2 separate regions of the Homo sapiens genome follow, and region 1 is linked to region 2. Evidence: fine-mapped expression QTL. A gene starts in region 2. The other region holds a variant in brackets. All regions are shown on one strand. Distances are between the middles of the regions. Region 1 overlaps NUP214 (nucleoporin 214). Region 2 holds the start of LAMC3 (laminin subunit gamma 3).

Evidence for each region. PIP is the estimated chance that this variant, and not a neighbour inherited with it, causes the effect. A credible set is the group of variants that fine-mapping cannot tell apart.
Region 1: its variant is the best candidate, but not a certain one, in a credible set for the expression of LAMC3 in whole blood (TOPMed, PIP 0.82).

Annotation. Positions count from the first base shown.
Region 1 is chr9:131,129,104-131,132,010 of GRCh38, reverse strand. NUP214 (nucleoporin 214) reads right to left here. Exons shown (of 36, transcript NM_005085.4): 4 at 2,534-2,732; 5 at 1,175-1,245. Among named protein-coding and RNA genes, the nearest start is that of NUP214, 5.0 kb to the right of the region's middle. RefSeq lists a silencer at 174-348. The variant T/C (reference allele first, on the strand shown) is at 1,781.
Region 2 is chr9:131,007,373-131,010,250 of GRCh38, reverse strand. It overlaps LAMC3 (laminin subunit gamma 3), which reads right to left and starts at 1,077. Exons shown (of 28, transcript NM_006059.4): 1 at 664-1,077. The coding sequence starts at 1,036.

The sequences.
Region 1 (2,907 bases), 120 kb before region 2:
ACAATCATCAATAGTGGAATAAGGCTGGGCGAGGTGGCTCATGTCTGTAATCCCAGCACTTTGGAAGGCCAAGGTGGGCACACTGCTTGAGCCCAGGAGTTTGAGACCAGCCTGGGCAACATGGCAAAACCCTATCTCTACAAAAAATACAAAAATTAGCTGTGCATGGTGGCAAGTGCCTGTAGTCTCAGCTACCCGGGAGGCTGAAGTGGAAGGATCACCTGAGCCCAGGAGGCTGAGGCTGCAGTGAACCATTACGTTATCACACCATTGCACCCCAGCCTGGGCAACAGAGCAAGACCATCTCTCAAAAAAAAATAATAATAAATAAATAAAAAATTAAGGCAAACAGCAAAGCAAGAAAATTTAAAAAATTGCATTATCTTTTTACAGGTTAGTGTCCTAAAAGATTATGTACCAAATTTCAGGTAACTTTTGGTAATAACAAATAAGAAACATAACCTTAACCTTAAACCTATACCACCTACATTCACCACTCTGCTCCCCTCCTCGCCAGAGAACAGTCTTGAGGAGGAAGGCACAAGAAAGGCCTTAGCACCACCTGTGAATCCCTCCTTCGTGTCCAGGCTCAATAGACATATGGGGGTTCCTTGCAACTCAATTGATATTGAAGGATATTTGTGAACATTATTTCAAGAAATTCACAGGGAGGATGACAGAGTGCACATGCAACAAGAGTATCCATTTTCTTTGGTGCCCATAGTTAGACAAACAGACCTTTAAAGACAGACTCAGTTAAAAGACAAATACTGTGCTTTAACCCAGAGTGATTCTGCATTATCATCATAGTTTTTTCACTAACTCTTTTCCCTTGAGCTGTTTTTATGGAATGGACTGAAAAAGGTGGGGAACAGCGCATAGCGTATGATCACATTTTACATAAAAACAACAACAAAAAAAAAGCAGCTACCCATAGACTATTTGTATAACATCCAGAAAAGTATGGAAGGCTATCTACTCAACACAACATAGTGGGTGCCTCTGGAAGAAGGACTATGGGAAAGGGAAGAGTTCCACTCTTCATTCACTGATGGATTTGTTACAATGAGTATAAATTACTTTTTAATAGGAAAAACAAGAAAGATACTCCCAAACCACCCCCAAAAAAGTGGGCAACTTAAGAAAAATTCTGAAGTTCAAGATAAGAACTTACAGGAAGATACTGGACCACAGTTCCATTCTGTTTTCCCACTGCCAGCTGCTTTCCTTTGGGGCTCCAGCACACTGAGCAAAGACAGTATTACCAAATGAAAACAAGAAAATGGAGCAAACCAATAAGATCTATCACACACAGCTAATTATCAATTCTCATTCCTCTGTCAGTCCATGGAAGATTGTAGGATCATCTCTATCAGGCAAAGTGGAAAAAAGTAAAATCATTTTAACGATATAAGCCAATTGATTTATCACTGGGCTATTGAATTGAAAGCTAAAAATGCTTTTTCAATAGATTACTGCCCAGAAAGCTGCAAAATACAGAAAACTCTGTAGTCTTTACATAAGACAAGGAGAACAGAGAAGGTTTCCAAATACCAAGAAATCACTGGCCGGGCACAGTGGCTCATGCCTGTAATCCCAGCACTTTGGGAGGATGAGACGGACGGATCACTTGAGGTCAGAAGTTCAAGACCAGCCTGGCCAACATGGTGAAACCCCGTCTCTACTAAAATATACAAAAATTAGCTGGGCATGGTGGCAGGCACCTGTAATCCCAACTACTCTGGAGTCTGAGGCAAGAGAATTGCTTGAACCCAGCAGG[T/C]GGAGGTTGCAGTGAGCTGAGATCGCGCCACTGCACTCCAGCCTGGGCGACAGAGCAAGACTCTGTCTCAAAAAAAAAACAAAAAAAAAAAAACAAAACCAGAAATCATTCTCCTGCTCCCATTTAATATTTAAAATGCTTTTCCGCCCAAAGGTACAAATGACTTTCAGAGTACCACCGTTACAGATCCAGAAACAATTATTCCCAAAAAACACTTCTAAACCAGCTGTACCAAAATATTTCTCCAGAAATCCCAAGTACATTCAGGTTAAATTATGTATGCTGTTTGGCTTCAAGGACATTAACTATGGGTATAAAGAATACTCTCAGCCGGGCACAGTGCCTCACACCTGTAATCCTAGCATATGCGGGGTGGAGGAGGGCAGATCACTTGAGGTCAGGAGTTCAAGACCAGCCTGGCCAACATGGTGAAACCTTGTCTCTACAAAAAATACAAAAATTAGCTGGGCATGGTGGCGCATGTCTATAATCCCAGCTATTTGGGTGGCCGAGGCACGAGAATTGCTTGAACCCAGGAGGTGGAGGTTGCAGTGGCTGAGATGATGCCACTGTACTCCAGCCTGGGCGACACAGTGAGACTGTCTCAAAAAAGAATACCTTCCATCCTTAACCTCCCTCGTCATGAAAAAAAAAACCAAAACACAAAAAGCTATCCACTTTCACTTCTAGAAATCAATTCTTAAGTAGATGACCATGATTGTATGCTACAGTGTGAAAGCCTTTATTACTCACCAGAGGTTACTGCTACCGTGGAAGGAAGAGTTGCACATACTTTCACTGTTTCCGTGACTTGCAGGACAGCAATACTACCATCAGCCAGACAAACTGCCACCATGGAGGGGACAGTGGGGTTCCACTTCATATCAATCACCATGCCTCCTGCATCTTTCAAAAGCTTATGATAGGCAAATGGGCGTTTTTGCTGTTTAGCCTTTTAAAACAAATATGCAAAAGTGAAATAAGTTAACAAATAGTAAATGCAGAAACATTTAATATTCAATGGAAATTACTGAATACACAAGGTATCTCAAATCAGTTTATTTTTCTCCATAACCATAAAAAAAGATTGTTTTATGCATCAATCTATTTGCTATAGACAATTTCAA
Region 2 (2,878 bases):
CAGTCTTAAGTGATCCTCCTGCCTCAGCCTCTTGAGTAGCTGGGACCATAGGTGTGCACCACCACGCCCAGCTTTTTTTTTTTTTTTTTTTTTTTTTTGAGACGGAGTTAGCTCTGTTGCCCAGGCTGGAGAACGGTGGTGCGACCTCGGCTCACGGCAACCTCCACCTCCCGGGTTCAAGCGATTCTCCTGCCCCAGCCTCCTGAGTAGCTGGAACTACAGGCACCTACCACCACGCCCGGCCAAATTTTCTATTTTTAGTAGAGACGGGTTTTCACCATGTTGGCCAGGCTGGTCTCGAACTCCTGACCTCAGGTGATCCGCCCGCCTCGGCCTCCCAAAGTGCTGGGATTACAGACGTCAGCCACCGCGCCCGGCCTATTTTTCTTTATTTTTTGTAAAGATGGGATCTCACTACGTTGCCCAGGCTGATCTTGAACTCCTGGGCTCAAGCGACCCTCCCATCTCGGCCTCCCAAAGTGCTGGGATTTCAGGAGTGAGCCACCGCACCCAGCCTAATTCCTATTTCTGAGCCCCTCCATCCAACACCATATCTGGGTCCTGCAGCCCAACCTGGGCGCACAGCAGCTCAGGCCTCAGCCTCAGACCCCCAGTGGAGTGGGGACACGGGGTGCGGTGGCGGTGCCCCCAGCCCGCGCTTACCTAGGCGGAGGGTGATGTTGACCGAGGTGGGGTACTGCACGCCGAAGGCCATGGACGGGCTCTGCCACCAGGTGCTCTCGTCCTGGCTGTGGAAGTCGGTGAGGTAGGAGGCGTTGTGGTGGCGCTGGGGGTCGGCGGCGTCGCAGCGCTGGCAATGAGCCCCCGCGCCCGCGGCGCCCACGTGGGGACAGAAGTCCTCGGGCGGGCTGCCGCACGTGTGCGAGGCCTGGGCGAGCCGCCCAAACGCCGCGTTCTCGAACACCGGCAGGCAGCGCTGCGGGCGCCCTGCGCCGTCATAGCACGCGCCCATGCCCGCGCCGGCCGCCCGCGGTGCCAGCAGCGCCAGCCCCAGCAGAAGCGCAGCCGCCGCCATGGTCAAGGGCACCGACGCCGCGCGCTCTGCCGGCCCCGCTCGGCTAGGGTGGGCGCGGACCGCGCGCTGGCCGCCAGGACCCGCCTTCCCCTGCGGGGCGGGGAGGCTGGAGGGAGGGGCGGGCGGCGGCGGCCCCACCCCACTAAAAATACCAGGGACCGCGCCGTCCCCGGGCGCCCACTCCCACCTGCTGGACGTGCCCGGCAGTGCGCGGCTCGGGAGTCTGCCCCAGAGGCGACCCGGGCCTCTTTGAGCCTCAGTTTCCTCGTCTGTGGAGTGGGGTCGGTAAAGATGCAGGCTCATTCTCGCCATTGGGAGGCTTCAATGGCTGCTCATTAAACAGAAACTGTTCAGCAGTGCCTTGGAGTCCTGAGATAAAAGGGGACAAGAGGATCTATCTCTAACTGATCGCTACCGTTTGCGCATCTCCTCCTAGCAATAAAGTGTGCCCTGGACAGGGTTGTGAGATGGCTCCGCATAGCTCCTGTCGCCCTTAACCCTGAAAAGCACTCCTGCTGCCGGCTGCGCTCTGTCCCCACAGCAAAGAGATTCTAACCTGACATTTGTGACAAGGGTACCTGGTCTTATCACAAATGTCACCTCAGAGAGGGCTTCCTTGTCTTCTGCCCCAACCCCCATAAATGCCCCCTTTACTCCCCATTTATTAACATTAGCAAATCGAGGGAGAGAAGTCATTCGATAAAATTTAGCAGCCAGGTCGTGCGCGGTGGCTCACGCCTGTAATCCTAGCACTTTGGGAGGTGGAGGCGGAAGGATAACTTGAGGCCAGGAGTTCGAGACCAACCTGGGCAAAATAGTGAGACCCTATCTCTACAAAAAAATACAAAAATTAGCCCGGCGTCATGGCACAAGCCTGTAGTCCCAGCTACCTGGGAGGCTGAGGTGGAAGGATCCCTTGAGCCCGGGAGGTTAGGCTGCAGTGGGCTGTGATCATGCCATTGCACTCCAGCCTGGCCAACAGAGTCAGACCCTGTCTCGAAAAAAAAAAAAAAAAAAAGGCAGCCATTCCCAGACGAACTCTAAGGAAAATAGAAATAAATTTCCTGGCCTGGCGCGGTGGCTCTCGCCTATAATCCCAGCATTTTGGGAAGTTGAGGAAGGCAGATCACCTGAGGTCAGGAGTTCGAGACCAGCCTGGCCAACATAGTGAAACCCCGTCTCTACTAAAAACACAAAAATTAGCTGGGTGTGGCGGTGCGTGCCTGTAATCCCAGCTACTCAGGAGGCTGAGGCAGGAGAATTGTTTGAACCCGGGGGGCAGAAGTTGCAGTGAACTGAGATCATGCCATTGCACTCCAGCCTGGGCAACAAGAGAGAAACTCCATCAAAAAAAAAAAAAAGAAAGAAAAGAAAGAAAGAAAATTTTTGGAAGCAAGATGAACTGTAGTGGGCTGATTCACTACCAGTTATTTACACATGATTAAAACAATACGGTTGTGGAAAGGACTACAGAATAGACCCATGGAATAAGTTAGAGATTTCAGAACTATATCTAAGTAGAGTTAGTATATGATATCACCACTGGTACCTAAGGTTATTTTGGAAGTTCTAGCTAATACAATAAGACAAAAAACTTAAAAGATATAAATATTTATATCTTCTACTTACCTGAACATACATCTAGAAAATCTAAAAGATTCTACTAAGACTATTAAAATTAATAAGAGCTCCGTAAGATGGCTGACTACAGGATAGAGTACGAAAACCAATGCCAGCAATAGGCATTTTCTGGCTGGGTGCGGTGGCTCACGCCTGTAATCCCAGCACTTTGGGAGGCTGAGGCAGGCAGATCACCTGAGGTCATGAGTTCGAGACCAGCCT